Regions from separate parts of the Homo sapiens genome. Here region 1 is linked to region 2. Evidence: fine-mapped expression QTL. A gene starts in region 2. The other region holds a variant in brackets. All regions are shown on one strand. Distances are from middle to middle.

What was found. PIP is the estimated chance that this variant, and not a neighbour inherited with it, causes the effect.
Region 1: its variant is the best candidate, but not a certain one, in a credible set for the expression of CARMIL3 in monocytes (BLUEPRINT, PIP 0.85).

What each region holds. Positions count from the first base shown.
Region 1 is chr14:23,971,747-23,976,130 of GRCh38, forward strand. It overlaps a transcript of DHRS4L2 not described here. Among named protein-coding and RNA genes, the nearest start is that of DHRS4L2, 15 kb to the right of the region's middle. The variant C/A (reference allele first, on the strand shown) is at 2,419.
Region 2 is chr14:24,049,738-24,054,083 of GRCh38, forward strand. CARMIL3 (capping protein regulator and myosin 1 linker 3) reads left to right here and starts at 2,272. Exons shown (of 40, transcript NM_138360.4): 1 at 2,272-2,456; 2 at 3,972-4,066. The coding sequence starts at 2,417. It also overlaps the pseudogene DHRS4L1. RefSeq lists silencers at 2,065-2,364, 2,635-2,724, 2,745-2,914 and an enhancer at 2,930-3,629.

The sequences.
Region 1 (4,384 bases), 78 kb before region 2:
GAAATAAAATCCTTTGCAGACAAGGAGATGCTGAGAGATTTTGTCACCACCAGGCCTGCCTTACAATAAGAGCTCCTGAAGGAAGCACTAAACATGGAAAGGAACAACGGGTACCAGCCACTGCAAAAACATACGAAATTGTAAAGACCATTGATGCTATGAAGAAACTGCATCAATTAATGGGCAAAATAACCAGCTAACGTCATGACAGGATCAAATTCACATATAACAATACTAACCTTCAATGTAAATGGGATAAATGCCCCAATTAAAAGACACAGACTGGCAAATTGGATAAAGAATCAAGACCCATATGGTGTGCTGTATTCAGGAGACCCATCTCACATGCAAAGACACACATAGGCCCAAAATGAAGGTATGTCTGGAATTGGTGGGTTCTTGGTCTCACTGACTTCAAGAATGAAGCTGCGGACCCTCGCGGTGAGTGTTACAGTTCTTAAAGGCAGCGTGTCTGGAGTTTGTTCCTTCTGATGTTCAGACATGTTCAGAGTTTCTTCCTTCTGGTGGGTTCGTGGTCTTGCTGGCTTCAGGAGTGAAGCTGCGGACCTTCGCAGTGAGTGTTACAGCTCTTAAGGCAGCATGTCTGGAGTTGTTCGTTCCTCCTGTCTGGAGTTGTTCATTCCTCCTGGTGGGTTCGTGGCCTCACTGGCCTCAGGAGTGAAGCTGCAGACCTTCACGGTGAGTGTTACAGCTCATAAAGGCAGTGTGGACCCAAAGAGTGAGCAGCAGCAAGATTTATTGCAAAGAGTGAAAGAACAAAGCTTCCACAGTGTGGAAGGGGACCCAAGCGGGTTGCTACTGCTTGAAGGGGTGGCTTGCCCCTCCACACCTGTGGGTATTTCTAGTCAGGTGGGACAAGAGACTGAGAAAGAGAAATAAGACACAGAGACAAAGTATAGAGAAACAACAGTGAGTCCAGGGGACCGGCGCTCAGCATACCAAGGACCTGCACCGGCACCGGTCTCTGAATTCCCTCAGTTTTTATTGATTATTATCGTCATTATTTCAGTAAAAAGGAATGTAGTAGGAGGGCAGGGTGATAATAAGGAGAAGGTCAGCAACAAACGTGAGCAATAGAATCTACATCATAATTCAGTTCAAGGGAAGGTACTATGACTGGACGTGCACGTAAGCCAGATTTATGTTTCTCTCCACCCAAACATGTCGGTGGAGTAAAGAATAACAAGGCAGCATTGCTGCAAACATGTCTCGCCTCCCACCATAGGGCAGTTTTTCTCTCATTTCAGAATTGAACAAATGTACAATCGGGATTTATACCGAGACATTTAGTTCCCATGGGCAGGCAGGAGACAGTGGCCTTCCTCTATCTCGACTGCAAGAGGCTTTCCTCTTTTACTAATCCACCAGAGCACAGACCCTTTATGGGTGTCAGGCTGGGGGACAGTCAGGTCTTTCTCATCCCATGAGGCCATATTTCAGACTATCACATGGGGAGAAACCTTGGACAATACCCTGCTTTCAAGGGCAGAGGTCCCTGTGGCTTTCTGCAGTGCATTGTGCCGCCAAGGCCACACCCACCCAGAACTCGTGCTGGCCTGCAAGTGCTGCGCACAGCCCCAGTTCCCGCCCATGCCTCTCCCTCCACACCTCCCTGCAATCTGAGGAAGCCAGCTCCAGTCTCAGCCAGCCCAGAAAGGGGCTCCCACAGTGCAGCGGCGGGCTGAAGGGCTCCTCAAGCGTGGCCAGAGTGGGTGCTGAGGCTGAGGAGGTGCCAAGAGTGAGCGAGGGCTGCCAGCACACTGCCACCTCTCAAAGGGATGGAGGAAGATCTACAAAACAAATGGAAAGCAAAAAAAAGCAGGGATTGCAATCCTGGTCTCTGATAAAACAGACATTAAACCAACAAAGATGAAAGGAGACAAAGAAGGCCATCACATAATGGTAAGGGGATCAGTTCAACAAGAAGAGCTAACTATCCTAAATATATATGCACCCAATACAGGAGAACCCAGATTCATAAAGCAAGTTCTTAGAGACCTACAAAGAGGCTTAGACTCCCATACAATAGTAATGGGAGACAGTAACACCCCACTGTTAATATTAGACAGAAAACATGACAAAATTAATAAGGATGTCCAGGACTTGAACTCAGCTCTAGACCAAGTAGGCCTAATACACATCTACAGAACTCTCCACCCCAAGTCAACACAATATACATTCTTCTCAGCACCACATCACACTTATTCTAAAATTGACCACATAATTGGAAGTAAAACACTCCTCAGCAAATGCCAAAGAACAGCAATCACAACAAACTGTCTCCCAGACCACAGTGCAATCAAATTAGAACTCAGGACTGAAAAACTCACTCAAAACTGCACAACTACATGGAAACTGAACAACCTGCTCCTGAATGACTACTAGGTAAATAACAAA[C/A]TGAAGGCAGAAATAAACATGGTCTTTGAAACCAATGAGAACAAAGACACAGTGTAGCAGAATCTCTGGGACACATTTAAAACAGTGTGTAGAGGGATATTTACAGCACTGAATACCCACAAGAGAAAGCAGGAAAGATCTAAAATCAACACCCTAACCTCAAAATTAAAAGAACTAGAGAAGCAAGAGCAAACAAATTCAAAAGCTAGCAGAAGACAACAAATAATGATGATCAGAGCAGAACTGAAGGTGATAGAGACATTAAAAAAAAAACCTTCAAAGGATCAATGAATCCAGGAGCTGGATTTTTGAAAAGATCAACAAAATGGACTGCTAGCAAGACTAATAAGGAAGAAAAGAGAGAAGAGTCAAATAGACACAATAAAAAATCATAAAGGGGATATCACCAGTGATCCCACAGAAATACACACTACCATCAGAGAATACTATAAACACCTCTATGCAAATAAACTAGAAAACCTAGAAGAATTGGATAAATTCTTGGACACATACACCTTCTGCAGACTAAATCAGGACGAAGTTGAATTGCTGAATAGACCAATAACAGCTTCTGAAATTGAGGCAATAATTAATAGCCTACCAAACCAAAAAAGTCCAGGACCAGATGGATTCATAGCCGAATTCTACCAGAGGTACAAAGAGGAGCTGGTACTATTCCTTCTGAAACTATACCGATCAATAGAAAAAGAAAGAATCCTCCCTAACTCATTTTATAATGCCAGAATCATCCGGATATCAAAGCTTGGCAGAGACACAACAAAACAAAGAAAATTTTAGGCCAGTATCCCTGATGAACATCAATGCAAAAATCCTCAATAAAATACTGGCAAACCGAATCCAGCATAAGGATGCATTCTCTCACCACTCTTATTCAACATAGTATTGGAAGTTCTGGCCAGGGCAATCAGGCAAGAGGAAGAAATAAAGGGTATTCAATTAGGAAAAGAGGAAGTCAAATTGTCTCTGTTTGCAGATGATTTCACCGTATATTTAGAAACCCCATGATCTCAGCCCAAAATCTCCTTAAGCTGATAAGCAACTTCAGCAAAGTCTCAGGATACAAAATCAATGTGCAAAAATCACAAGCATTCCTATATGCAAATAATAGACAGAGAGCCAAATCATGAGTGAAGTCCCATTCACAATTGCTACAAAGAGAATAAAATACCTAGAAATCCAACTTACAAGGGATGTGAAGGACCTCTTCAAGGAAAACTACAAACCACTGCTCAAGGAAATAAGTGAGGACACAAACAAATGGAAGAATATTGCATGCTCATCGATAGGAAGACTCAATATCATGAAAATGGCCATATTGCCCAAAGTAAATTATAGACTCAATGCTATCCCCATCAAGCTACCACTGACTTTCCTCACAGAATTGGAAAAAACTACTTTAAATTTCATATGGAACCAAAAAAGAGCCAGTATAGCCAAGGAAATCATAAGCAAAAAGAACAAAGCTGGAGGCGTCACACTACCTGACTTCAAACTATACTGCAAGGCTACAGTAACCAAAACAGCATGGTACCGGTACCAAAACATATCTAGACCAATGGAACAGAACAGAGGCCTCAGAAATAATGGAACAGAACAGAAGCCTCAGAAATAACACCACACATCTTCAACCATCTGCTCTTTGACAAACCTGACAGAAACAAGCAATGGGGAAAGGATTCCCTATTTAATAAATGGTGCTGGGAAAACTAGCTAGCCATATGTAGAAAGCTGAAACTGCATGCGTTCCTTACACCTTATACTAAAATTAACTCAAGATGGATTAAAGCCTTAAATGTAAGACCTAAAACCATAAAAACCCTAGAAGAAAACCTAGACAGTACCATTCAGGACATAGGCATGGGCAAAGACTTCATGATAAAAACACCAAAAGTAATGGCAACAAAAGCCAAAATAGACTAATGGGATCTACCTAAACTAAAGAGCT
Region 2 (4,346 bases):
GAGTTTTACTAAGCCCCAAACTCCCCTTGCCTAAGGAGTTACTTTCTTCCCCAGTGAGCTGGGTGAACTGTTCAAGCACCTTTGTCGGGCTCCCTTTCCTCTAAGTTCCCTGCCTCTCTCTACCTTCTGGCTTCTGGGCACTATCTAGTTTCTCCATCTTGTCCCTCAAGGACAAATGCCAGCAATGCCTAATTCCGTACTGGTCCAGACATCCCAAATCTTCCCAAAGCCATTCTGATGTCAGGCATGAGCTACAGGCCTAGTTCATAACTCATTAATAAGTCAGGGGATTGTCAACCTAGAGCTCCAGTGAATGATCTAGCCCATGTAGCTCAATACTGGATGCACATTAGAATCACCTGGGGAGCTTTTTAAACTGCAGGTGCTCAGGCCCCACCCACTCCCAAAGATTCTTTTTTAATTGGTCCAAGGTAGGACTTGACCATCTAGGGTTTTGTTTTTCTTTGTCTTTTCTTTTCTTTTTTTGTTTAAGCCTCTCAAATGATTGCAAGGTACAGCTAGAATGGAGAAGCATTAATTCAGCCCTTCTAGGTTTGAGTTACTCTGCCCACCTCTAGAGCATTCTATGGCAGGCAGATTAAAGTGTCTCCTAACTATGCAGTCACTGATAAAATAAGAATTAGCACATTCTCACCAAATGATCCTGACTTTAAGGGACAAGTATAGATTCCTGAAAAAATTGTCTCTAAGTTGAACCTGTACAAATGGAATCATTTTAAACACACCATTTACTGTCACACAGACTCCCTGATACTTTAGTGTGTGCACATGTGAAACCATTTTTTTGAAGTATGAAATAATTACTATTTTACCTGTATAACTTTGGATTTTGGTGTCCTGAGCTCTCTAAAAAACAGTGTCTCTATAGTATTTGAATATTATGGGTAATGGTTTTTGCAGAGTACAGTATGCTTATACTAAATTATAACAGCATATCCTCATGGTAACCCTATTTGATAGGCGGAAAGTTTGTACACTGATCCTGAAAAGTTATCTGATAATTCTTGATTAAGCAAATTTCATTCCCCGTGTCCCAGGTGAGGGAGGCAGACCTGTTTGATTTTTACTCCCTTCCTTGCTTCCCCTATTCCCCAGGTTAGGCGAGCCAGAGGATTCTCTTGGCATCGTGTCTTTCCTGTGCTCTGAAGATGCCAGCTACCTCACTGGGGAAACAGTGATGGTGGGTGGAGGAACCCCGTCCCGCCTCTGAGGACCCGGAGACAGCCCACAGGCCAGAGTTGGGCTCTAGCTCCTGGTGCTGTTCCTGCATTCACCCACTGGCCTTTCCCACCTCTGCTCACCTTACTGTTCACCTCATCAAATCAGTTCTGCCCTGTGAAAAGATCCAGCCTTCCCTGCCGTCAAGGTGGTGTCTTACTCGGGATTCCTGCTGTTGTTGTGGCCTTGGGTAAAGGCCTCCCCTGAGAACACAGGACAGGCCTGCTGACAAGGCTGAGTCTACCTTGGCAAAGACCAAGATATTTTTTGCCCAGGCCACTGGGGAATTTGAGGGGAGATGAGAGAGAAGGAAGCTGGAGTGGAAGGAGCAGAGTTGCAAATTAACAACTTGCAAATGAGGTGCAAATAAAATGCAGATGATTGCGCGGCTTTGAATCGAATCGACGTTTTCTCAGTGCGGGGTGCTTAGCTGAGCAGAGAGCAGAAGTCTGGCCAGGCTGGATCTCTGGATCCCCCAGCCCTCCTCCCTGTCTCCAGGACCTGAGCGTGATGTTCAGGGGTGGAGGTGTCTGCAGAGCTGCCAACTGGAAGGAAGGTGGGACAGGAACTCCCAGGACGCCACGGGGATCCCCGAGGCAGGGCGAGTCGGGCGAGGGTGGGGAAGGAGGAACTCTCTAACACCTCCCCGCCCCTCGCCTCCCAGATCCAGCCATGCCCTCTCCCAGCATGGCCCTAGGTCCCGAGTCAGCAAGGACAAGCTGGAGGGGTCCTGAGCCGGTGGGGAATAGAGAAAGGCCCTGCAAGGTGCCCGGGCCCACAAACAAAAGAAATGGCTTCTGCCCACGGGCCCGAGGATTGAGTAGATGGAAAGCGGGGACGCTGCCCCCCGCCCCGAAGGCCCGGACACCGGGCGACGCACACCGGCCAGCTCACGCGGGAGCCAGCGAGAAGGGTCGGCGCGAGCGCGCGCGGGGTCTCACGCGGCTCGGCAGCGCGGAGCGCATGCTCAGTCCGGCAGCTCTCCCTGCTGGGCGGGGGAGCCGGCGCTCCGAGGCGGGGGGAGGAGCGCTCAAGCAGCCGCCCCTGACCGGAGCGGGCTCGGCCGCTGCTGCAGCGCTCAGCGCCCGGGCCCTGCTGAAGCCGGGTCTAGCATGTGCCGCGGCTCCCCGGCGGCGGCGGCGGCTCCTCTGCAGCAGCCTCAGCAGCAGCGGCCGCCATGGCCAAGCCCAGCGTGGAGCTCACCCGCGAGTTGCAAGGTACGAGGCTGCCTCGGTCTCTGGGACGCCCCGTCCGGGAGCATCCCAGACCCAGCGCGTTCCTCCCCGTGGTGCATCCCAGCCCGGTGTCTCACACCCCTCACCCCATGCATCCTGGCTCCAAGGCAGCCCCTGCATTCCAGTCCGGGCATCGCTGTCCCCGGAGCATCCTCCGCTGCCTGCCTCGCCTCACCCGGTCGGGACCTTCCTGTCCCGGAGCCGCCCGTCCCGCCCTTCGGTGACAGGTGCAGTTCCCTGGCGCTCCCTGGGGCTGACTCTCGGCGTTCCTAGCCCACCCTCGGCGAAGCGTCCAGTCTCCCATCCGGAGAGTCCCCGCTTCCCCGCCGGGCGGGGCCAAGCCCGCCCCTCCCTGCGATGGGAGCTGCCCCTGGTCCTGACCGCTGCGTGGCTTAACACCCTCCCTCCTCCCGGCCCCGCCCCGGAACTGGCCCTGAAGAGCCCCTTAGGAGCTGGGCAGCGCCCAGGCCAGTGGGGCAAAGAAAGGAGTCAGGGAAGAGGCCCTGGATTGGAGCTAAAACCAAGAGCAGGAGGGTCTCTGAGGCTCGCCTCCCACAGCCCCGTCCCAGCCTGCTTCCTTCTCGCTACCCACCACCCACACATCAAGGCTTCTCCCGTTTGCATGGTTCTCAGACCTAGCCCAAACCCAGGCCCGGCCACCCAGCACTGCCACAACCCTGACCCCCAGAGACGGGAGCACAGGCTAGCCCACGCAAAGCGCAGGATGCTCGTGGATACTCAGAGGCATGCTGCGCCGTGGCAATCTCCCACACCTGCACACACACACAGCACAATCATTAGACGTGTGTAAACACATCTTCACAGAGATGGCACCCCAGCACACGCGCGTGCACACACACACACACACACTATATCTGGGTGGTTCTGCCAGCAGATGGGTATGGGGCTCATTTAAACATTAATTCTTCTCCCCGCCCAACACACACAGAGGAAGTGTCTGGCTCTGTGCCCCTTCCACAGCATACTCATTCACACTTACCTGTCCCCACCAATGCCACACTCAGGCTCCCTGACATCTCCAGGAGGCATGCACACTCTCATAGTAAAGGCAGACACTCACACCCGGACCACCTAGAATATAGTCAAAGGGACACCCCACACCCCCACACAGTGACTCACTTTGTATGTGTCAATGGCTGTTGTAGTGCATGGGTTGGAAAAATTCTTCACACCCTCAGAAGTGTGAGACACACCCTCCCACAGACAGTCAGCAACCGTCCCCTGACTCAGGGACATCAGGAGCCGGAGTTTTCTCCACACCCTACTCCCTCTCTAATAGGAAGAGAAAAGTCAAAAAAGAGACAGTGTGAAAAGTCACCCAAGAAGGAATGCCCTCTGTCCCTGTCCTCCCTTCTTTGTCTCTCTGTTTCTCTCTTATCCCATTTGACCCTGACCCTGCCTCTATCTGGAGAGCTCTGGGAGGTGGGGGTGGCCAGGGTAAGGTGAAGCTCTGAGCAGGCTCCCACCCCCCCTCAGACAGCATCCGGAGGTGCCTGAGCCAAGGGGCCGTGCTCCAACAACATCATGTGAAGTTGGAGACAAAGCCCAAGAAGTTTGAGGACCGAGTGCTGGTGAGGGCACTGGGCATGTGGGGAGGGAGGAGGTGGCTGGCAAGGGCAGCTGGCCAGTAGAGGGCAGGGAGCCGGGAGGACAGAAGAGACAGAAGTGGGTGGACACTGAGGAGACAAAACCTGGGGGGAGGAGGCAGGGCTGGACTGTGTTGATGTCCAGAAGTCTAGGGTAGGGCATCGGGTTGGGGAGACACTCCAAGAGCAGAGCTGAAGGGCTTAAGGAGGGCAGGGCCACCAAGGCCCAGCAGCTGCCATGAGCTGCCGATTTTTTCCTCTCTCT